7 linked regions of the Homo sapiens genome follow. The protein of the gene in region 4 purifies or fractionates together with the protein of the main gene of each other region. This does not show direct contact. Each region holds a gene or a part of one and is shown on either strand. Other genes may lie near its edges.

Region 1 (3,165 bases), on a different chromosome or scaffold from region 4:
CTCACTCTGTTGCCTAGCCTGGGGTGCAGTGTTGGGGTCTCGGCTCACTGAAACCTCCACTTCCCAAGCTGAAGCAATTTTCGTGCCTCAGCCTCCTGAGTAGCTGGGATTACAGATGTGCGCGACCACACCTGGCTAATTTTTTTGTATTTTTAGTAGAGACAGGGTTTCATCATGTTGGCCAGGCTGATCTCCAACTCTTGGTCTCAAGCGATCTGCCCACCTCAGCCTCCCAAAGTGCTGGTGTGAGCCACTGCGCCCAGCCCTAATTTTTCATTTTTTTTGTAGAGATGGGATCGTGTTCTGTTGCCCAGGCTGGTCTGGAACTCCTGGGCTCAAGCAATCCTTCCACATCGGCCTCCCAAAGTACTGGGATTATAGATCTGAGCCACTGCGCCCAGACTGTTTCTATTATTTTACTCACAGTATTTATACTTCATAATTTTAATGTACCTATAATCCTGATGCCCTCCCACAGTTTGTACACAAGAAGCCTGGTGTCTTTTTTTTTTTTTTTTTGAGACGGAGTCTCACTCTGTAGCCCTGGCTGGAAGGCAGTGGCATGACCTTGGCTCACTGCAACATCTGCCTCCCAGGTCCCAGTTCAAGCAATTCTCCTATCTCAGCCTCCCGAGTAGCTGGGATTACAGGCATGCACCACCATGCCCAGCTAATTTTTTTGTATTTTTAGTAGAGACAGGGTTTCACCATGTTGGCCAGGCTGGTCTCAAACTCCTGACCTCGTGATCCACCTTCCTTGGCCTCCCAAAGTGCTAGGAGGCCGAGGCAGGAGAATTGTGTGAACCCGGGAGGCGGAGCTTGCAATGAGCCAAGATCGCGCCACTGCACTCCAGCCTGGGCAACAGAGCAAGACTCCATCTCAAAAAAAAAAAAAAAAAAAAAAAAAAAGAAGCAGGGGCCTAATGCCTGTAATCCCAATGCCTTGGGAGGCCAAGGCAGGAAGATCACTTGAGCCCTGGAGTTCAAGACCACCCTGGGCAACACAGCGAGACAAAAAAAAAAAGAAAGAAAAATTAGTTGGGCATGGTGGCACATACCTGTGGTCCTAGCTACTTGGGAGGCTGAGGTGGGAGGATTGCTTGAGCCTGGGTGATTAAGGCTGAAGTGAGCTGTGATCGCACCACTGCTCTTCAGCCTGGGCGACCAAGTGAGACCCTGTCTCAAAAAAAAGTAACCAAGAATAAAGCAGGGTCTGCTCAGCCCCTTGGAAGTCACAGGATGCTCACACCAGTTACAAGAAATTTAGTTTCAGTCCTAGAGTTGAAAGGGCCATGAAAAAGGCAGGAGGATGTTTTAAGACTGCACAGCAGGAAGTACTAATAGAAGGGATTCCTGGACAAAGAAGAGCTCCTTATATGCTACTGCTTTTGTGAAGGACCCCAATTTTCTGCAACCAGACTTTTTAGATCAACTCTAAAACAGAACTCTTTATGCTTACAATGCTACTAAGGGGCCTTCTGATTGCTTTGACAATTATATTGAAATTTGGATTCTGTCAAAACAATATCTTAAAGTTACCTGTTTGTGTTATTTCAAAATGATATATGGTGGGGGAGGAAACTGTACCTGTATATTCACTTGATAATCTGTAGGGCCATGAATAGATCCATACAAGCCAAATCCAACTATAGAGATCCTTCTATTAACTGTGAATCTGAGAGAAAGAAGCCAAAAATAAAATATAATTAATCCCATGTGTTCATATTCTGAAGGGTTATAATTTTTTTTAAGTGTAACCTGGAACATCCAGTTTTGCTTATAAAAAGGAAAACAAATTAGATATCCTTGGAAATGTCATCTGTTTGCTTACCAAAAAGCTTTCTAGAGCAGATTTGAACTTAAGAGGAACCTAAGAATTGGTTTTGTAAAAGAATTTAACCTAAATACCCACTTTTGTTGTAATGATAATTTTAGTGCTATACGAGTCCAAATATTTGTACATCTTTTTCATGAACGCAGACATCTCAGCCATTAGGACTGAAGCCCAGCATCTCAAACTACGACAATTATCAATTCAACAAATACTTACTAAGGGCTTATCATATTTAGGTACTAGGCTTGGCACTGCGGAAGTAATGGTCAACAAGACAGTTTCTACCTGCATTGTGCATACAGTCTAATGGAGGACACTGATAATGCAAGAAAGGAATAAATAAATAATTACAAATTGTAACAAGAGCTGTGAAGGAAGTAGGCTACTCTAACAGAATACTGGTAGCAGAGGGATGGGACAGGATTCGAATGCAGTTTCCTAACTAGAATAATTAACAAGTCCAGTTTGGTCATAATAGTTAAGAAATATTGACCCATCTTACTCCATTTTGTAAATGAATAAAAACTGACATTAAATACATATGGAACTGAGGCTGGGTGTGGTGGCTCACACTGCAATCCCAGCACTTTGGGAGGCTGAGCCAGGTGGATTACCTGAGGTCAGGAGTTTCAGACCAGCCTGGCCAACATGGCAAATCCCTGTCTTTACTAAAAATATAACAGTTAGCTGGGCATGATAGCAGGCACCTGTAATCCCAGCTACTAGAGAAACTGAGGCAGGAGAATCGTTTGAACCTGGGAGAAGGAAGCTGCAGGTGACCCGGCACTCCATCCTGGGTGACAGAGCGAGACTCCTTCTCAAATAATAATAATAATAATAATAATAATACATATGGAACTAAAAGCCTGTAAAATCTGACATAATTATAATGTCTTACATTGCAAAATTACATTGAGTAACTCTCAACATTGTCAGCAACACCTTCAATTATTAGTAATACTAACTCATCAATACCACTTCATGAGTACTTCCTAGTGTGCCAGGCACTGAACTTCAGTTCTTTACAGAATTATTTCCTTTAGTCATCGTAACAGCCCTATAAGCTAGATAACAGTACTATTTTGAACATCTGGTACAGTAAGATCACCTTAAACGCTTACAAACATGTAATTTTTTTTAAAGAGATGGAGTCTTGCTCTATTGCCGAGGCTGGGGTACAGTGGTACAATCATGGCTCACCACAGGCTTGAACTCCTGGGCTCAAGTGATCCTTCCACCTCAGCCTCCCAAGTAGCTGGGCTGCAGACACACTCCACCATTCCTTGCTAGTTTAATTTTTTTTTTTTTTTTTTTTACAGATGGAGTCTAAC
Region 2 (3,500 bases), on a different chromosome or scaffold from region 4:
TTCCACCCTCTGTTCCTGCTAGAACGCTTTTCCTGACCCCAGCAGAACACATGGCTCAGGGTGGGCACCAGCCAAGCTGGGGGCTGACTTAGACAGTCCCTGACTCTGGTGAGAAGAGGGGAGTGGCCATGCTGAGCTTTGTGTGTTCTCCCTGGCACTGGGGCTGTGGGGGACAACTCCATGGGCCTCTGGAATTGGCTGGGTCCTCAGTAACTCGAGAGCTTGTCATCCAGATACCAGATGCCACCAGTGCTGGCAGGGAAGCCTCGGGTGGTGCCCCAGGTCTGAGCCTTTGGGCCTGCAGGGCCAGCTGACCCATGGGCCTGTGCCCGTACGATGATGCCTCACAGGCTGGGAAACCTGCTTGGGTGTCAGACTGAGGCCCTCATGCAAAAGGTTTCCGCCACCGCCGAGTCCTGCCTCACGTCAGGTTGGGGCTGCAGCCAGTACAGCAAGACTCAGCTTTTATGTTCTCTGTGTGGGTGTTAGATATGTTCTGGGGGACTGGCCTGACAAGGTGTGCAGCCACCTTCTGGAGTCTCAGGTGGGTGGCAGGAGGGCTGGTGGGGCAGCAGTTACACCTGTGCAGGAGCTTCTGGCCTGACCAGGCCGCGCAGGTGGTCAGGTCGTTCCTGCCGGCTCCCTGCTCTGCGGCCCGAGGGCAGTGTGGCCTGTTGGCACCTCTGCCCATGGGGCACCTCCTCTGGGAAGAGACAGCCTCAGCGGTGCCCGGGACGTTGCAGCCGCAGCCTCATCCCTGACTTCTCTCCCTCCATTTTGGCCCTTCAGACGAGGCCCAGTGTGATGCTGCGTAAGACAGACCTGGCCCTGACCCTTCCTGCTGCTGTCAGATGAGGCCCTGGGCCTTGGTGCTGGCACCTGGAGGAAGGGACTGCGCATTGTTCCCACCCCTCATGGGGCATTCTTAAGGCAAAAACGGGCTCACTCGGGTGTAAGTGCCGGGCAGGGGCCTCTCACAGATGTGGTCCAGCCGCTCCCTCTAACTCGGCCCTGCACAGTGCCCTGCCATTCCCATGCTCTCCTGCCTGAGGTGTCCTCTCCCTGCCCCTGCCCACCTCTTGGGCCCGGCAGAGGCAGCGCCCCCACTTTGAGACTTTGTTCTCTCCTTGCTACAAGGATCCCCTCCTGCCCCATCTGACCAGGGTGTGTCCACTCTGTTCTGTGGGTGGGTTGGTGTGTGCCGTGGCCCTCCCGCCTGTAGCGCCCATGTCTCTATGCCACATGTTGACAGTCCATTGATAACAGCCCAGGAAGCAGAGATGGCTCCTCTCTGCCCGAGCCCCACACCCCCAACCAGGCCAACAGTGTGCAGTCCTGGGGGGGTGGAGTCACCATCCACATGTCCAAGGAGCTTCGGGCCCCTCTTCCCCAGTCTCCTGGGCAGCAGTACAGGACTGCAGCTGACTCGTTCTTTGAGGTGAGGAAAGTGGCAGAAAACATCTTTGTAAATACGTCTGCTTAGGTATCTAAAACACAGGAGCAAGGAAGATGTTCTGGAATCTCTGGCTAGTTGGAATTTTTGTTTTCTGTGGTGGTTATCATTTGAGTTACTTTTAGATCTAAGCAGCCTTGTTCTGAATGTGGGCCCGACTCTGGGGATTGATTGGCCACCGTTTGAGGTCTGACAGCAGTAGCAGGTGAGGGACTTCAAATCCAGCCTGGGTGGAGGGTTCGAGTCCTGGCTTCATGCTTAACAGCTGTGCGGCCTTGGACAACGTGCCAGTCCCTCTCAGACCCATGTTTGATTCGGGAGGTTAGGGGCCGAGCACGCGGGGTGCATGGGGTGTGCCCTGAAGCACCACTGGCCCTGGTGAGGCCTTGCCTGCATGCAGATGGCAGAGGAAGGGGGACCTCCAACTGGCTGAGCAGCGCTTTTGGGGTTTGTGCCACAGGGAAGCCCTTTGGCTGCATTTTGGCTCTGACGACCTCTGTCAAGGGCCTGTGGGTCCCTGACCCCTGGGTGAGCGAGGGCACTGCTCCCATGGGCCTGGGCACTGTGCCATCCTCCAGTGGCAAACAGGAGGTCCCCAGGGTCTGAGAGAACCATGCAGTCCAGGTGTGAAAGGGGTCCTACAAGGTCAGCTGACCATAGAGACCTTGGGACCACCAGGAAATCGTGGGGGCCCTCAGCCAGGGGATGGGGTCAGGGCTCCTTGAGCCTGTTCCGCCCATCTAGCTCCCCTTTAACCCCAGGGAAGAAGTAGCTCAGGTGGAGACCCTGGGTCTGCATGGGGGTCACGTGAGCTGCCTGTAGCCAGCAGGGGGGAGGGCTGGGTGCTGTCCTGAGGATGCAGGTGCAAATGGCCATTTCTGGGCCACCTGTGTGTATCAGCATCTGCAGAGGGGCCTGGGGTCTGGCTCCTGGGGTTGGCAGCCCCAGGGGCTCTGCCATGGCTGCCCAAGGTGGTGATATTTCCTGTCTGCCTGTTGGGTGTGGGGCAGTGCCACCCTGTCCCATCCCACCTCATCAGCACAGAATGAAGCTGGTCCTATACTCATCACCTGTGCACATGAGGAAACTGAGGCCCCAAGAGGGGAGCCCAAGGTCATATTACTGGGGATCTGTGGGCTGGCGTCTGAGCCCAGCACTGTGGCTTCAAGCCCACATCTGCCCTAGGAGGGCCCAGGAGGCCCTGTGATGTCATTCCCCCGTGATGTCATTCCCCCATGACATCATTCCCCTGTGATGTCATACATGTGACGTCATTCCCGTGCTGTCACCACATGATGTCATCCCCTGTGGTATCACCTCTGTGATGTCAATACCTCTTTTAATGTCATCCCCATGGTGTCATTCCCCCCATGATGCCATCCCCCCATGATGTCAGTCCCCCATGATGTCAATTTCCCACAATGTCATCCCCTGTAATGTCAATACTCCCTTTGATGTCATCCCCGTAATGTCATCCCCTGTGATGTCATTCCCTCATGATGCCAGTGTGATGTCATCTCTGTGATGTCATTCCGTGATGTCACCCCCCATGATGCAATTCCCCTGCAATGTCATGCCCCTGTGATGTCATCCCCCGGTGATGTCATCCCCCCATGTGATGCCAGTCTCCCATGATGTCCCCCCTGTGATGTCATTCATGTGACATCATCCCGTGATATCATTCCCGTGATGTCTCCCCCATGATGTCATTCCCCATGTGATGTCAATTTCCCACGATGTCACCCCTCTGACATCATCCTCTGTGATGTCTCGCCCATGATGTCATCCCCCATGGCGTCATTCTTGGTCGTGGGGGGTTGTGGATCCCCTCCTCTCCCCTCCCTTGGGGTCTTCCTGGCTGGTGGGGAGAGGTGGCCTGGCCTGGGTGCCACAGCAGCTGCTCTGGAAGGTGCCCGGGCTCTTGGGGGCCTTGGCCCACGCCATCCCCTGGACTGTGCGGCGCCCTCCAGGGCCCAGCTTCTGTTGGGTGTTGGGCACAAGTCAGAATCAAGTGCATCTGGCCAGATGCTGCCAGGGCCAAGGATGC
Region 3 (3,500 bases), on a different chromosome or scaffold from region 4:
TTTATGGTTTAATACTTTGTGGGTGATTCAGAAAGTAGAGTAGATGAAGTTTCATTTAGAATTGTTAGTATTCGTTATTTACAAAAAGTAATGAAGTGAATTCACTATGACTGAATTTATGATTAATTCTGTTATGGGCAAGTGTGATTTTGGGCCTCATGCAAGAGGGCTGGGACTAGCCATTGAGGACTCCTGGACAAAGAGCTTTTGAGTCAGGTATATGTTTCCAATTCCCAGGCTTTATCTCTAACTAGCCTAGCAACCTTGGACAAATATTTTGATACTTAGTCTATTAAAATGTAAAGTGACAGACAGTAGTACCAATCTTATCAGATTGTTATAGGAATTTGAAGTAATAAATGTGAAATGCAAGGGTTAGTGGCATTATCAGTACTTACAGTGCAGAATAAATAACTAGTTAGATTGCTACCAAGTTAATTTAGTAGGAGGCAAGTTGCATGAAGTATAACTGTGGGTATGCAAATTTCTTTAGTCCTTTGCTGAAACCAGATTGTACATGACTCTGTTCTTGGGACACTATGGGTATGGGATAAAAAACAAATCAAAACAGAAAAGGCTTTCAAATGATTATGCTCATCATGTGTAATTTTAAGTGTGTTAGTTTTCATGAAGTTATATTCGAGACTGGTTTTGGGGCCAGAAGTTTAAAAAAAAATTGGTGGGGATGAGGGTCTAATTCCTTTGCCCAGAAATTCCAGGTTACTAACCTTTCCCCAAAATGCTGATTAAAATTGAAACTGATAATATGATTTTAAGCAGACCTTTGTGATTTTCTAAGTAGCACATAATTTTAATTATTTGGAATACAATTGGTGAATAAGTGGTGAATATAAAAGATTGCAAGTTATAAGCTGTCCTCATTTGGAATGAATTTGATGGCCTCCAAAACAGTGAATCTGCAATGTATGAATCCTTGGATCCTTCAATTTACCATTGAGTGGATTTGCTTTGATTTTGGACCAAGTCAGTTTTCTGTGACTGGGGTAATCTGTGTATTTTTTATTTTTCTTAAGAGTCTATTAAGAAACGCATTTAGGAGCATTTGCAGTGTTTTCTTAAAGTGACTCATTTGTTAATCAGATAAATGGGCGTAGGAACTGCTTATAAACACCTAGACTGTCCATAACCTGTGAAATTAGTTAGTAGTCAACTTCTATGTGTTCCCTAAAGTACCCCTTACTGTAGTTTACATTTAAATGTCTTTAATAAATGAATTGTTTTACTGTCTTTCCTTCAGTTAGCCAATGAAAGAATACTTTTCCTTACAAATTGTAAAGTTGTATGTGGGAAGAAGTGGAGATAAACTTTTTTTTTTTTTTTTTCCGAGACGGAGTCTCGCTTTGTCGCCCATGCTGGAGTGCAGTGGCGCGATCTCAGCTCACTGCCAGCTCCACCTCCTGAGTTCACGCCATTGTCCTGCCTCAGCCTCCTGAGTAAGCTGGGACTACAGGTGCCCGCCACCACGCCTGGCTAATTTTTCGTAGTTTTAGTAGAGACGGGGTTTCACCGTGTTAGCCAGGATGGTCTCCATCTGCTGACCTCGTGATCTGCCCGCCTCGGCCTCCCAAAGTGCTGGGATTACAGGCGTGAGCCACCGCGCCTAGCCGAGATAAACTTTTAATTGTGATTGGAAAGCATGTTTTGATAATGATAGAAAATTTATTTTGGAGACTAAGGCACTTTTTATGGAACAGTGCATACACGGCTTCTGCTGTTACTGACACTGAGACTGATACTGCTAAATGATTTAAGTGGGCAGTTTAGTGACATCTGTGTGTCAACACCAGTGTATTCTGAAAGTGCTCTGTTGTAACCATAAAATGCCTGCAGATCGTACAGAAGAATCAAGTCTCCGTTTTGTACAGAACATTTAACTGAGTTTTAGAGTGTGATTCTGTTTATCACACATAAGTTTCAATAAACATTTACTGGGTGTGTGCTAGGTGCTAAGAACAATGCTTTTAGGTGGTCCTCTCTGGCTTTAAGAAAAAACAACATCTACTTTTTTAATACAAAATCCATTTCTGAAACTGAGTTTGAAAAGTGAATTTACAGATAATCCATTTATCAAGATATGTAAAATATTATGAGCCATTGTTGCCTCAGGTGCCTGGATGGACTTGCAAAGTTGAGAGATCTGTGAGACTTCTGACACTACTCTGTATAAGCCTTGGTAGTCACAGTCACCCTGGCCTGCAATCCAGTGCTATTTAATAGCCCACTTAGAAGATGGGAATGGGAAGTAGGATGTATTTTGAGGTTTGTTATGCTGCAGTGAGCATAATAAAAAAAAGTAAGCAACTTCCACGTTTTTGATAATTCCAGGCTGCTAATTTAGGTAATGGCAGACAATAGATGGATGATACAGTGTATACATGCACAGCCTGGGAAACATCCCTTAGCCATTTTGGCTGGGGTTTGGCCTGTGTTTCCTGGTGATAGTGCATGGTAACTAGTGCCACTATTCAGTCACCTTGTTTAGTTTAAGTATGAAAGGTAAAAATAAATTTAGGGATTTCATATAATGCCAGAAAATAAATGTGGAGTGAAAGTAGAGGTTTGCTAGGCTGGGTGAGATAACATTGTAGTTCAAGGTGATATCTTAAAATGAAAATACTCAGAGAAGGGCTGGACTGAACAAGTACTATATTGCTTTGTTTGCCATATCAGTTTACATAAATTATTGGTTTGTTGTCCCAGTCTATTATACTGTACTTTGGTAAAGATCCTCCCTTGGTAATATACAAGCTTGATCAAATGACAACCTCAGAACAGTGATGTATTTGGCTGAATGATTTTTGAATGAATGAAGTCAGCAGTTGCAGATAGCCCAAGACTGCCTATAAAGAAGGTGTTAAATGAGTAATTTACAGTGAAATTACTATGAGCTTAAAAAGAGATAATACAGGATTGGATATTTAGAAAAACTATTACAGGGAAGGTAAAACCTGAGTGGTATCAAGAAAGATGGACGGATCTTGAATTATTGGACATGAAGAGAGTGATCTAGCTGAATAAAGATACCAAAATGGTAGTAAGCATGAATTTTTTGGGGATATGAAGAAGTTTTGTCCTATTAGAGGGGAAAACCAGCATTTGTACTGGAGAGATGAGATGGAACCTGAAGGTAATTTTGAATGTTATACTGAGAAGTTGAGACTTGGTGTGATGGGCTAATTGTTGATTCTTCAGCAGAGATTAGCTTATTGGAAAGTAGTGTTTTAAGATGCATTATATGGCGGATAACAAGTTGTTTATTGTTATTGAGAGCTGCTTGTATAATCTTAACTCTGAATTGAAAGTAGCAACGTTTAAAAATATTAACTGTAATAAATATATTGGTACAGCTATAACTATAAAACATCTTGTAAATCATTAGCCAGTGTATTAAAACAAGTTAACTAATACTGAAATTTCAAATCATGTTCTCACTTATAATACCAGATGATTTTTAATTGCAGATTTAGTACCTCAAGACA
Region 4 (3,500 bases):
CGGAATTAACAATATTTTCTACCTCAGAGAGTCGTTGCAAGCATTAAATAAACTGATCTGCTTAGCACGTAAGCAGTACCCAATAAATAGGAACAAAGGCCTATTGTCTCTTGCTGTTAGCCCAACCCCAGTGCCCATGTGTGATAAATGAATGAAATGACCGAATTGAGTGACAGCCTGGCAGCATCTGGAAGCGAAGGTGCCTGGGTGACGGGGGATGGAGGTGAGGGTTGAGAAGAGCTGTAAAGGAAGCGGGGCAGTTTTGCACCCCACGTTGTGCAGCTGCAGTTTCCTAAACAGCCGGTGATCCACGCTGTGGTCGAGACCCGGCCGCCACACCCCGCAAAAAGTCCACTTGGTGAGAGCTGAGAACGAGGGTTCCAGTCTTTATTATGCGGGCGTTCAGTTTCTAGCTCCCGGGCCGTGGTCCGCGTCCAGCTTCCAGAGCCGCCGCGGGATACCAGCCGCCACTGGCTCGGCGTTCCACTAGCACCGGCGCCCCGCCCAGCCCCGGGTCCGGAGGCGGGGCCGCGGAGCGTCCGGCGCAGGCGCAGGCCGGTATGGGACGGGGCGGGGCTCAGAGGAAGGGGTTGGTGCCGGTCTGCGGGGGCGGGGGCCGCGGCCCGGCTGAGCTCGGCGTGGGCAGCAGCGGCTGCGGTGCGAAGGCTCCGGCCTGCGGGAAGACGCTAACCGAGGCGGGGAGGGTCAAGCCAGCTGGCACGCTGCTGAGCGGGAGGGGCAGAGAGGCGCTGTAGGTCATGGAGCCCAGGGGCGCCCCCACAGGCCCGCCTGCCAGGCCCAGCGCCGGCGAGCCGGTGCGCATCTGGTTTAGCGTCGGCCTGCCCGGCTCGCCCGCGCCGAACGGGTTGGTGGGGGACGGAGCGCTGAGACCTGCAGAACGAGAGTGGCTTTGAGTGACCCGGGGTTCAGAGCCCTACACCGGGAGGTCGTGGAAGTTGGGAAGAAGAGTGGGCTCCTCCGGCGGAGGCTAGGCTCTGAAAGCAGGAGCCCCTGGGTTGAGGGACAAGGGCATATCTTACCTGTCAGGAAGGGGTTCCGGGTCTTTGCAACCTGGGGTGCCTTGACCAACGAGTCAAGGTTGACCAAGGAGGAAGCTGAGGGACCCAGGAAGGACTCGGGAGTCCGGCAAGCTCGGGCCTCTTTGCTTGGCTGGGTTAGTGCTTCCCCTAGTATGCCCAGGTCCAGGGCATCTGGCTCCTTCGTGCCATTTTGCTTGGAACTGGGGCTGGGGTCTCCAAACAGGTCCAGCTCTGGAATAGAAATGCTAGAGCTAATTGGTGGGGAAAGGGATTGGCGCCCGACGTGGGAGGAAGAGGACAGAGGCTGCTCGGGGTGGGCCCCTCATTCCCCAGAGCCTCACCATCCCCTTGCCCTGCTCACCCACAGGGCTGCTGGGCTTCCCAGAGGGCAGGGCCTGCTCCAGCCCCTCCTTGGTCTCTGTGGATTCTGGAGGTTTGGCAAATGGGTCAAAGGTCGAGGCACCACCTCGGAAGAGAGAGAGGAAGAGGAGATGGGTTGACAAAAAGGGCAGGTGTTGGTCTGACCCCTTTCCAGAGAAGCTGTCCTCCTAACACAAACAGTATCTGCTGCCCCTTGGCCCTGCCTGGAAGTCCCCCAGCTCCTCACTCACACTCTCTGGCCCTCTTCTTACCAGGTGTGTCGGAGGTCTCCAGGGAGGCTCCCCAAGGGTCAGCCCCAGTGCTGGGGAGTTTGTGGTGGGGAGAGTTCAGGGCCCAGGGGTCTGTGGTGGGGGGCCCAGCAGGCAGCACTGGGGTCCTGCCCCAGGGCTCAGAGGAGGAGAGCATGGGAGTCAGATCCCAGGGCTGGCTTCGGGACAGGACGGTTCCTGAGGGGATCGGAGACCAGGGGTCTGCAGAAGGCCCCCAGGAGGATCCACTGGCCTCTGTGTTCGGCCTAAAACCTGAAATGGGAACAGCATAGACATGATCCCAGGCCCACCCTTATCCCTCGCCCAGGGCCCTTCCCAGTTACCCAGCCCAAGTTGGGAGGCAGAAGATCCATGTCACAGATGGCCTGCAGCCTCAGGACCACCCAGCAGGCTGGAGCCCCTATTTGACAAGTGACCCCAGGAACTGGGACCTGCAGGTGTGGGCGACTCAGGCCACCTTCCCAGGCGTGCTGAGCAAGTGAGTGCAGCGAGAGAACATTTTGCTGCGTTTCCTAGGAGCTGGGCCCTTCAGACATTCTCCATAGCCCTCACTACGAAAGCCTGTCCCACAGGCGGCGGAGGCTCAAGGTGGTGAGTGACTTGCCCGGTGACACTCAGATTTTGGGAGGAGGTGCTTGGCCCAGCAAGTGGCTGGGAAGGAGGAGGCTCTTGGGCCAGCCTGGAAGTCTCTTGCAGCCCTGCATGCCCACCTGGGATGTCCCATGGGTCAGCAGAGCAGTGTGTGGAGGGCGGGGCCAGGGCAGGTACGAAGATGTCAGCCAAGTCCAGGATGGAGGACTGTGGAGGGGAGAGGCAGCCGCGGCTCAGAAGTGGGCGGGGCCTGGAGGGAGGGCAGGCCCTGACCTGTCAGGCTAATGCCAGTTCATTCTCTTTATTCATTCCACAGATACCTATTCATGATCCCTCACCTCTGCACAGTGCTTTACAGTTTATAATGTTTCTTCATCCACAGAGTACCTGATTTTCATAACAACCCTGTGAGGTAGGTAGGGCAGATGATGTACCCATTTTATGGATGAGCCAGCCAGCGCACAGAGGGTGGAATGGGTTTGCCTGAAGTCACACAGCCAGGGAGAGGCAGAGCTGGGATAGAATCCAGGCCAGCAGAAAGGGGCAGGAAGGCCAAAGGCAGATGTTTTTCAACCAGCCTACCTCCCTAGGTCAGTGTCCAAGAGAAACTGGCCACAGTGAACATGGACGGAAAGGAGACCACAGCACCCGGGCGTGGCATGGACAGCTTTGGAGGGCAGCCTTGCACTCAGCAGCTGCCCACTCCCCATGCGGAGAAAATATGTCCATGAGCCCGAGGTGTTTTCAGCACCATGTGCTTAGGCCAACCCTAGTCTTGATTGACAGTATCACATAATCCTAGCATGTCAGAGCTGGAACTATCCAATAAGCACACTGTGCAGAAGGGGAAACTGAGGCCATGACAGTGACATGCCCCAAGTCATAGAGTAAGTGGCAGCAAATCCAGAACCCGAATCCGGGGGTCTCCAATCAGGAACCTTTTGCATCCCACTTTGCTGTTAACTCAGTCACCAGCCCATGCAATGTGGGACTAGGGCTGCTACACCCCCACCCCTATTTCATCGAATAAACACATCAGTGCTTACTATATGCCAGGCACTGCTCTGCTCTCTCTTTACAAATACTCAGTCCATCTCTTAGGCCCTGTCCATCCCAAGCACCGCAGCCCACTCCCTACCTGGCTGGTTTTTAGCTTCTCCTCCTCCTTTCTCTCTTCTCTCTCAGGCTCTCTGTCCCGCTGATGGTGGACCACGGCCCC
Region 5 (3,500 bases), on a different chromosome or scaffold from region 4:
AATAGGAGTTATAGCTGCTGCTTTACCAATGAGAGGTTTAGCCTCCTTCCATTCTTCCTGCTTTCAAGTCAGGAATCACTGAGACCCAATCACAGAATTAGCCCTGCTTCCCAGCAGCATCCAACACAGAGCAAAGCCCCACTTCTCTGAACTGTCTCTCAAATCACCCAACACAAGCCCACAGCCCTTCTCTGAGATGTCCCACAGTTCTTCCCCACCCCAATGCAACAAGGAAATAAACCCAACTTTGCTTGACTACAGGTATGCTCCTCGTGCTTTTTGGCTGCAGGGCACTGACAGCACATAACTTGTTTGAACTATTCCCTGAAACTGAAAAAGAATTGTCTAGCTTTTCCAGATTTTCTATAATGAATGGGTACTACAACTATAACTGGTAAAACACAAACGTTATTTTTGTAAATGGGACTGGGAGTAAAGGGAGGCAGCTTGCAACAGCAGAAGCAACGCGACAGTCATGGACAATATTCAATTCAAGGTTATCCAACTCTTCTGGCCAACTCTCCCCAACTCCATGGCACCCAACAGTGGCCTGGATATCACCTGCCATGTCAGGGCCCTGCAGAGTGAAACAGAGAAAGAACGGCCTCCTGGAAAGAAATGTTTTCTCAAGAAACAGTTCCTTTTTCATCAAGAAAAGTCACAAGAAAATATGTTTTCAAAAGCTCAGGCTTAGCTCACCTGGGGTCTTTGCTGCCCGATGCCAAACACAAAAGAGGTCCAGAAGAAGCAGTTACCCCTCCTTTCTAGCTGTCCTCTGAAATCAGTCCCCAGAGACCTCACACTAACAGTTATGACCAGCCACCTCCCTCAGAAAAATCCTTTGTCCATGGGATGACAGGAGTAGCTTATGGAAATAAAAGTTTCCAAAAACTGTGAAGACCTCGAAGGGGGGGAGAAAAGGCTTACGGTCATGGGTGAGGGTGTGTGTTGAGGAAATTTGCCCCAAAATGCAAATACTTTTTAAGCACCCCTTTCAGATCTAATTTTATATAATAAATGCTTGTTATGGGAAACGATCTAGCATTTTGGAAGGTGCCTATCATGAAACAGACAAAAAAGTACATAAAGTATACTTCATGTAAAGTCAAAGCACAGTAAATATGTGATATGAAGGATTTTTTTCTAATGGCATACTTGTATAGGACACTTACCATGAATGGAGTGTGTAGGCCTGGAAATTGCTCTGGGTGAGCGAGTGGTGAGTAAATGTGAAGGTCTAGGACATTACTGTACACTACTGTAGCTTTATCAACACTGCACAGGGAGGCCACACTACATTTATTTAAAATATTTTTTCTTTCCATAATAAATTAACCTTTGCTTACTGTAACTTTTTACTTTAAAAACTTTTTAATTTTTTTTTAACTTTTGGACCCTTTTGTAATAACATAGCTTAAAACACATATTGCACAGCTGTACAAAAATATTTTCTTTCTTTATATCCTTATTCTATAAGCTTTTTTCTCTTTTTTTACTTTTTAAACTTTTTTATCCAAAACTACAAAATACACACACATTAGCCTAGCCTACACAGGGTCAGGATTATCAGTATCACTGTCCTCCACATCCTGTCCCACTAGAAGGTCTTCAGGGACAGTAACACGCATGGAACTGTCATCTCCCGTAAGAATCCCTTCTTCTGGGATACCTCCAGAAGCACCTGCCTGAGGCTGTTTTACAGTTTTCACTTAAAAAAAAAAAGGCAGGTAGGAGTATATTCTAAAATAACCATTAATAGTAAATACATTAACCAGTGATATATCTATCAAGTTCATTACTATTATCGACTATTATGTACTGTACATAATTGTGTGTGCTAGACTTATACAACTGGCAGCAAAGTAGTTCTGTTTACACCAGCATCACCACGAACACGTAATATGTTGTGCTACCACTGAAATGACAGCTACACTATCACTGGGCTACAGGAATTTTTCAGTTCCATTATAATCTTAAGGGACTGTTATATACGCAGTCTGTCACTAACCAAACTGTCATTATGTGCGCATGACTGTACCTTTTTTGGCTTTCCAATACCTTTTTAAAGATAATTTGCACATAATGAAGTATACTTTAAGTGTACAGTTTGATGTGTTTTGGTCAATACTTGCACCTGTGTAGCCCCCACTCCAATCAAGCTGTCTTGGAACATTTCCATGCCTCCAGAAAGCCCCTCGGTGTCCCTTGACCACTGCATTTCTACCACATGCCTTTTACAAATTCAAACAATGCTGGAAGACAGCTATAGTTATTTCCATTTTGTGGATTTGGATGCCACAGCCCCATCAGGGTCAGTCACTCTCAAGCTGGAGTTGAGTCAGTGACGGGGCCAGTGAAGGACATGGGCAAGTGGTGGCTGGCCCAGAGACCATCACACCTAGTAGATTGAGAGCTATGATACATAAGCTGAGAAAGGCCAGCCTCACCTCCCTTCTTTAAAAAGTACAAAAAGCCCTGAAAATAGTCGCGAGGTAAAGTGTGGCTAAGGGTTTGGAGTTAGACCTGTGCATAAGGCCCCAGCCCTACCACTTAGTAGCTGTGTCCAGGGCCAAAAGCCTCACCTCCCTCACAGGGCTCCCTAGCTCTGAGTAAACACTCCAAACACTCAAATTATGATGATTTGAGAATGCTCCCGAAGTCTCAAACTATCTTCTCTTTGGAAACTGTTTCCAGCTCTAATGGCAGACGGCATGACTAAGAGATAAAGGCAGGAGCCATCCTGATCTAGAATGAGACTACAGATTAGGCAACAAAAGCTCTAAACCTTTTCAGAGCTCACCCTCTCCAAAGGTCAGTCAACCTAATAGTAGGCAAGGCCCTTGGGGGAAAAGTTTTGGCAGCATTCGTGTCCTTGAGCCCAAGTTACAGTGAACTTAGGACACGAGGCAGTGGACCAGAGACCCCCACCATAGCAAACCTCTCTAGGGAGGACTCTCCCCACTGTTGCTACTGGAATCCTGCTTTTTTTTTTTTTTTTGAGACTGAGTTTTGCTCTTATTGCCCAGGCTACAGTACAACGGCACGATCTCAGCTCACCGCAACGTCTGCCTCCCAGGTTCAAGCAATTCTCCTGCCTCACCCTCCCGAGTAGCTGGGATTACAGGCATGCACCACCACACCTGGCTAATTTTATATTGTTAGTAGAGATGGGGTTTCACCATGTTGGTCAGGCTGGTCTCAAACTCCTGACCTCAGGTGATCCTTCTGCCTCGGCATCCCAAAGTGCTCGGATTACAGGTGTGAGCCACCGCGACTGGCTAATTTTGTATTTTTAGTACAGACGGGATTTCTCCACATTGGTCAGGCTGGTCTCGAACTCCCGACCTCAAGTGATCCATCTGCCTCGGCCTCCCAAAGTGCTGAGATTACAGGCATGAACCACCGTGCCTGGCCAGGATCCTGCTTTTTGACTTGTTTCAAAGGTTTGATTTCATTACCAATGAAGCTGGGGAGGTGAAGCAGGAGACAGCAAAATTGGT
Region 6 (3,500 bases), on a different chromosome or scaffold from region 4:
ACTGTTTCACTCTTGTCGCCCAGGCTGGAGTGCAATGGCGCAATCTCAGTTCACTGTAACCTCTGCCTCCTGGGTTCAAGTGATTCTCCTACCTCAGCCTCCCGAGTAGCTGGGATTACAGGCACGCACCACCATACCCAGCTAATTTTTGTATTTTTAGTAGAGATGAGGTTTCACCACATTGGCCAAGCTTGTCTTAAACTTCTGACCTCAGGTGATCTGCCCACCTCGGCCTCCCAAAGTGCTGGGATTACAAGCATGAGTCACCATGCCCAGCCCAGTATACAACTTTAGAGAAGTCACTTTACCCCTCTGAGCCCAAATTCCCGCACTAAAAAAATGCAATAATTATGGGACAAACCAGAGAATGTTCGTGAAATACTCTGTAAATGATAAAACATTAACTCAAAATATTTCTCATTTCAGAAAATTGAAAAGCAAATGTTTTGACAGCCATTTAAAAACAACAGGCAAATACAACCATATTCCTCCGTGTTTTTCCCTCTGCCAATATTTACTTAAGATACCTGCCAGTTTGCTGAGATGATGCTGTCTTACACTGAGCAAAGAGATTCAAACCTGTGCTGTCCTCTGAAGATAGAAAACAAGAGCAGGTACCTCACTGAATTGCCAAATATTCCACATATTGAGGCTGAAAAGCCAACAAGCAGTCTTCCTACAGCCCTCTGTCACCTCAGACTTAACGGGGGGGGTAAACTGGCATCTCCCTGCCCCTGCACACGTTTCTGTTTAAAGTGCTGTCTTAATTTTTTTCCAAAGTTCTCAATTTAGGAAGCACCAAATTTACTCCCATAGACATCAAAAGAGAATGGAGGCTGGGCCCGGTGGCCCACGCCTGTAATCCCAGCACTTCCAGGAGGCCAAGGTGGGCAGATTACTTGAGGTCAGGAGTTTGAGACCAGCCTGGCCAACATGGTGAAACCCCGTCTCTACTAAAGATACAAAAATTAGCCAGGCGTGGTGGTGGGTGTCTGTAATCCCAGCTACCCAGGAGGCTGAGGCAAGAGAATTGCTTGAACCCAGGAGGCAGAGGTTGCAGTGAGCTGAGATCATGCCACTGCAGTCTAGCCTAGGTGACAGAGCAAAACTCTGTCTCAAAACAAAAAAAGAAAGAGAGAGAGAGAGAATGGAGAGGGTGCCATCAAGGCACAAGAAACCTACACCCACCCTCATCACATGAAAACACCTCTTCCCAACCCAGCATCTGTCCTATCTCTAAAACACACTCCTCTCATGGGTAAAGAGCCTTAAAAAGCAACTTGCAACCATTTTTCTTAAAGACGTTTCCTTAAAGAAGTTTCTTTTTGGAGATGTGGTATAAATCATGGCTCCTAATCCTTCCTTTCGCTTTCTAAACAACACTCACTGTTTTTCCTTTCCCACAGAACCTAACGTTTAAATCCATGAACCAGTTTTTACCCTTGAAAATGCAACCAGGAAGTGAAATATAAAGCATGGGATTCTGCCAAAACTTGCCAAGCTGGGAAAACCTTTCTTAACCTTCAATGAGGGGGTTCAGAATTTCTATTTTAGTATATATGTAAGCTGCTAGTTTCCCAGAAATTCTTTGTGGGACTATTACCCCCAGGTTTGAAATAAAGTTTCTGGGACTGCTGTTCCCAGCAACATCTCAATAAGAAGGATGACAAATAAGGCTGGGCATGGTGGCTCATGCCTGTAATCCCAGCACTTTAGGAAGCCAAGGCGGGTGGACAGCCTGAGGTCAGGAGTTCAAGACCAGCCTGACCAACATGTGAAACCCCGTCTCTACTAAATTACCCGGGCATGGTGGTGGGCGCCTGTAACACCAGCTACAAGGGAAGCGGAGGTTGCAGTGAGCCGAGATCACACCACTGCACTCCAGCCTGGGCAACAAGAATGAAACTCCATCTAAAAAAAAAAAAAAAACGTCCAGGCACGGTGGCTCACACCTGTAATCCTAGCACTCTGGGAGGCCAAGGCAGGCGGATTGCCTGAGGTTAGGAGTTCAAGGCCAGCTTGGCTAACATGGTGAAACCCCATCTGTACTAAAAATACAAAAAAATAGCCAGGCATGGTGGCGCATGCCTGTAGTCCCAGCTACTCAGGAGGCTGAGGTGGAAGAATCGCTTGAACCCGGGAAGCAGAGGTGCAGTGAGCCGAGATGCCGCCACTGCACTCCAGCCTGGGTGACACAGCAAGACTCAGTCTCAAAAAAAAAAAAAAAGGAAGATGATATATAAGTGAATCAATAGGTTTGACATTCTACAAGATAAATTTCACTGCCATGAAGTTCAACATTTATCTAGGGAGGAAAATATAGAAGACAGGACAGACTCCTTCCTAGGGGTGGCCCAGAAGACTGTCGGTTGGGTGAGGTCATAATTAAGGGCAGCCTCCTGGGCTGTCCAGTATTCACTGGCTTTCCTAAGGGCCTTCTAGGCCTGGTGTCTACAAAATCCCCAACTGAACATCTGTCACATTTGGTTCATCCTTCACTCTCCAACTCCCTTTGATTTCAGACTAAAAAATGGGTTGCTGAATACAAAACACACACCCTTGATACTTGGCATTATCTCCAGAGGTAACCTTCTGAAGGACTCATGCCTGGTCCCCACTCCCTGCCTCGGAGGACCAGGTTCTTAACTGCCCACTCCCAGCCTCCTGGAGCCCTAAGCCCTGCCTGGGCTCCCTGCTCCTCCCTGCTGCCCAGGGGGGCATGGATACAGGTGCTTGTGCTCTATGGTGTCTTGGAGTGGGGCATGGTGGTGGCAACTCCTAGCATATGAGGTAAATGCACTGATATTCACATTTAAAACATTATATTCTACAATATAGAAATAACTATAAAATTTATGCTAATAATTTAAACTTAATTTTTCTTTATGTAGAATTACATTAAATAGAAAAAAAAATTTTTTTTTTGAGACAGAGTTTTACTCTTGTTGCCTAGGCTGGAGTGCAATGGTGCAATCTTGGCTCACCGCAACCTTCACCTCCTGGGTTCAAGCGTTCCTCCTGGCTCAGCCTCCCAAGTAGCTGGGATTACAGGCACTCGCCACCATGCCCATAAATAGCAATTTTATTTTTTTTTAAATGACAAGTCAAGGGAAAAACTACAGAAGAACAAAATTTTACATTTTAGGATCTCTAAAGATGCTTTTTTTTTTTTTTTTTGAGACAGAGTCTCATTCTGTCGCCCAGGCTGGAGTGCAGTGGCGTGAGCTCAGTTCACGGCAACCTCCGCTTCCCAAGCTCAAGTGATCCTCCCACCTCAGCCTCCCTAATAGCTGGGACTATGGCCATGCACCATCACACCCGGCTAAGTTTTGTATTTTTTGTAAAGATAGGGTTTTACCATGTTGCCCAGGCTAGTCTCAAATTCCTGAGCCCAAGCAATCCTCCTGCTTTGGCCATTCAAAGTGCTGGGATTACTGGGTGTGAACCACCACGCCCGGCCTAAAGATATTCAGTTGGTGCAAAAGTAATTGCAGTTTTTA
Region 7 (2,552 bases), on a different chromosome or scaffold from region 4:
TAGCTCCTGACTGATGTGTCTTTCTGGCTGTACCATCCTCTTCTGGAAGTCATCGGCCCCACTGCACAATAAAGTCATTGCCCCTAGTGCCAGATGGGACAGAGACAACAAGGACTACATTTTCTCTTTGGAGTTGGCCAAAGTGAACCAACACTTCTCCACTTCCCAAACACCTCTGCGTCCCTCCATCCCAATTCCTTCATCATGGGCTGCAGGAAGAGGCACCAGGTGCTACTACATGATGGGGGAAAACACTTGGATCTCCCAGACGCCAGTGTGTCCCGCAGAATTCTGTAATGATGGATGTGTTCCGTATCTGTGCTGCTGACTCATCAGCCATGACCACACTGGCTGTACCACGTGGCATTTGTAATGCAAGTATTATATTCATTTTTTCTTGGTCACTAATTGGCTTATTCTTCTAAGTTCTTTGCTAAACTACTATCTTTTCATTGTTATTTTCATCAAACTCCACGGGAGGGAGAAATAAGAGACCCAGATAGGCTTGGTTTCTTGCTTTATTAGGTTTATTATAAGGAGCAGTGATGAGATCTTTATCAGTCCTCACTACAAAGCTTTCATCTCCAGCCTTCTCCATAGCTCTGTGGAGGGCAGAGAGTTGAGGGAAGGAAGAATGGAGCTTGGGAGCATGGGATCATGTATGTATACCAGGAAAGAAAACACACATTCTTTATTCTATTGCTTCAAAGACAGTTTGTGAGAATGGAAGATAACAAGCACAGCTGGCCAGGAAGGCAGGGCACACATGGCAGGTCAAGTTCCTGCTATCCAGGGAGGTGGCCCAGAGCTTCCCTGCTGCTCCTGGAGGAAGCAGAGTCCAAGCTGGCCCAGATGAGGCCCCGGGCAGCACTGCTTCTGTGTGGGTATGGCCAGTCGGGACGTGGCGCCACACACTGCTCCTCCGAACTCTGGTGAAGGGCTGCCCAGCCTCACAGGCCTGAGCAGAGTCTCCCACATCTGCGAATGGGGCCAATGGCACTCACTGTCTCTTCAGGCCCCCACGGACGGCATGCCTGGGGAAGCCTAGTCTACTTACCATCAGCACGTTGATCTGTCACACAGCATGGAGCCATAGTTTACAAAGGACCACGGCAGGTCAAGGACAGGCCACTAAAACTGTTGGTGCTGGGCACCATCACCCACCCTCACCACCATCAAAGACACTGGTGCAGTGAGACTTCGAGTCTGCAAAAACCCCGGGGAGGACAGGAGGCAGGGCCACTCTCCCTGTGTGTCATCAGCCTGCAGTGCCTGAAACTCCAGCCTGTGCACCTCTGGCAGGATGCCCCACACTGCTCCACAGGTTTGGCGGTGAGTTATTTTTAAACCAGCGTCCTGCTGTTCTTGCCCCCCGCGTCCCCTCTGCTGTGCCTAAACACCTCTCAGGAACACTTGGCAGCACGCCATTGTCAGTTCCAGGTCCACTCATCCCCTGCGTGTTGCCGGGACCCACCTTCCTGCGCTATCCCAGCACAACTCTCCAACCACACCATTGCTGAACAAAGCTGGGGAGTGACGGCCAGGGCAGGCTGTAAGGCAAGTGAATGGAAACTGGCTGGAAAAAGAGAAAGGGCCCAGAGCACAAAATCGCCACGCACAAAGACTAAGCCAGCCTGCCTGAGTGTCTGGTGAGCGAAGACGGAGCAGGCACCTCTGTGGGAACATGTATCTAGGGATCACGCATACCCCAGACAGGGCAGGCCCATCCTCAGGAGCTGCAGTCACACTCAGCCCGGCCTGAGGCAAGGGATGCAGGGCCTTGCCTAGGCAGAGAATGATGCTCTCCGAGGCATCTAGGCATGGAGTGTATGGCCAAAGAGGGTCTATTTACAACATACCTGACAATCAACTAGCACTGTATTCCTAGAACTGAGACCCCTTGCTTCTCATCTTACCTTGCTTAAATATTAGTTATTCCCAGAGTCAGGGAAGTGGGAGAGAAAGCCTGGGTAGGGCAGTGAGGGAAGTGATAAATGGTGAGAAAGAAAAGGAGACTGAAAACTAACAGGGCGGCTACCGAGGGGTGCAGGGCACAGTTACCATGGAGACGTAAAACACTACACAGAATGCGAGCCATCGGGTCCATGCGGCCAGAAGCTTGAGTGCTGTTCTCTCATGGAACTCTCCAGTGAGCCATGCTGAGCGGTCCTTGTGAAGTCATGTACTTAATAGAAAAGCCCTTGATGAACAACCCCATGGTTACAAACACTTGTGACAAGTTTCCTTGTTCAGGTGACTGGTGTGCAAAGGCAAGATGGTGCACATCCTCCTGACCAAGCAGGTACTGAATTCTCTGGAATTGCCCACAACATAATGGTATAAGGTATAACTAATCTCTTTTCCCATTAAAAAGCTGGCAATGCCAGACCATGAGTCTAATTAATTCAGAGTTGTTCCAGGGCACAAGATAGCCAGTAATGTCCAAATGGGGAGCCTTGTGGTGGTGGCAGCCAGGATTCCTAAGGCCAGGTGCTCCTTCACCTCTCTGGGAGAGCCAAGCTGTCCATCCGCTGGATCCCCAGGATGCTGGG

What was found.
Region 1: the proteins of EPN3 (region 4) and BTBD1 purify together in Homo sapiens (affinity purification with mass spectrometry; 3 studies listed by BioGRID and IntAct, with this or other methods). This does not show direct contact.
Region 2: the proteins of EPN3 (region 4) and ZFTRAF1 purify together in Homo sapiens (affinity purification with mass spectrometry; 3 studies listed by BioGRID and IntAct, with this or other methods). This does not show direct contact.
Region 3: the proteins of EPN3 (region 4) and KCTD3 purify together in Homo sapiens (affinity purification with mass spectrometry; 3 studies listed by BioGRID and IntAct, with this or other methods). This does not show direct contact.
Region 5: the proteins of EPN3 (region 4) and KCTD10 purify together in Homo sapiens (affinity purification with mass spectrometry; 3 studies listed by BioGRID and IntAct, with this or other methods). This does not show direct contact.
Region 6: the proteins of EPN3 (region 4) and PLEKHA7 purify together in Homo sapiens (co-immunoprecipitation; one large-scale study listed by IntAct). This does not show direct contact.
Region 7: the proteins of EPN3 (region 4) and VPS39 purify together in Homo sapiens (affinity purification with mass spectrometry; 3 studies listed by BioGRID and IntAct, with this or other methods). This does not show direct contact.

What each region holds. Positions count from the first base shown.
Region 1 is NC_000015.10:83,019,088-83,022,252, forward strand, and holds part of BTBD1 (BTB/POZ domain-containing protein 1), read right to left. Parts: intron 1,676-3,165; coding exon 1,588-1,675; intron 1-1,587.
Region 2 is NC_000008.11:144,456,372-144,459,871, reverse strand, and holds part of ZFTRAF1 (zinc finger TRAF-type-containing protein 1), read left to right. Parts: intron 1-3,500.
Region 3 is NC_000001.11:215,570,304-215,573,803, forward strand, and holds part of KCTD3 (BTB/POZ domain-containing protein KCTD3), read left to right. Parts: intron 1-3,482; coding exon 3,483-3,500. UniProt on the Homo sapiens protein: Accessory subunit of potassium/sodium hyperpolarization-activated cyclic nucleotide-gated channel 3 (HCN3) up-regulating its cell-surface expression and current density without affecting its voltage dependence and kinetics.
Region 4 is NC_000017.11:50,539,235-50,542,734, reverse strand, and holds part of EPN3 (epsin-3), read right to left. Parts: coding exon 3,420-3,500; intron 2,489-3,419; coding exon 2,401-2,488; intron 1,943-2,400; coding exon 1,673-1,942; intron 1,507-1,672; coding exon 1,402-1,506; intron 1,272-1,401; coding exon 1,041-1,271; intron 892-1,040; coding exon 578-891; 3' UTR 1-577.
Region 5 is NC_000012.12:109,470,801-109,474,300, forward strand, and holds part of KCTD10 (BTB/POZ domain-containing adapter for CUL3-mediated RhoA degradation protein 3), read right to left. Parts: intron 1-3,500. UniProt on the Homo sapiens protein: Substrate-specific adapter of a BCR (BTB-CUL3-RBX1) E3 ubiquitin-protein ligase complex. The BCR(BACURD3) E3 ubiquitin ligase complex mediates the ubiquitination of target proteins, leading to their degradation by the proteasome.
Region 6 is NC_000011.10:17,004,415-17,007,914, forward strand, and holds part of PLEKHA7 (pleckstrin homology domain-containing family A member 7), read right to left. Parts: intron 1-3,500. UniProt on the Homo sapiens protein: Required for zonula adherens biogenesis and maintenance. Acts via its interaction with CAMSAP3, which anchors microtubules at their minus-ends to zonula adherens, leading to the recruitment of KIFC3 kinesin to the junctional site.
Region 7 is NC_000015.10:42,158,201-42,160,752, forward strand, and holds the end of VPS39 (vam6/Vps39-like protein), read right to left. Parts: 3' UTR 501-2,552; downstream 1-500. UniProt on the Homo sapiens protein: Regulator of TGF-beta/activin signaling, inhibiting SMAD3- and activating SMAD2-dependent transcription.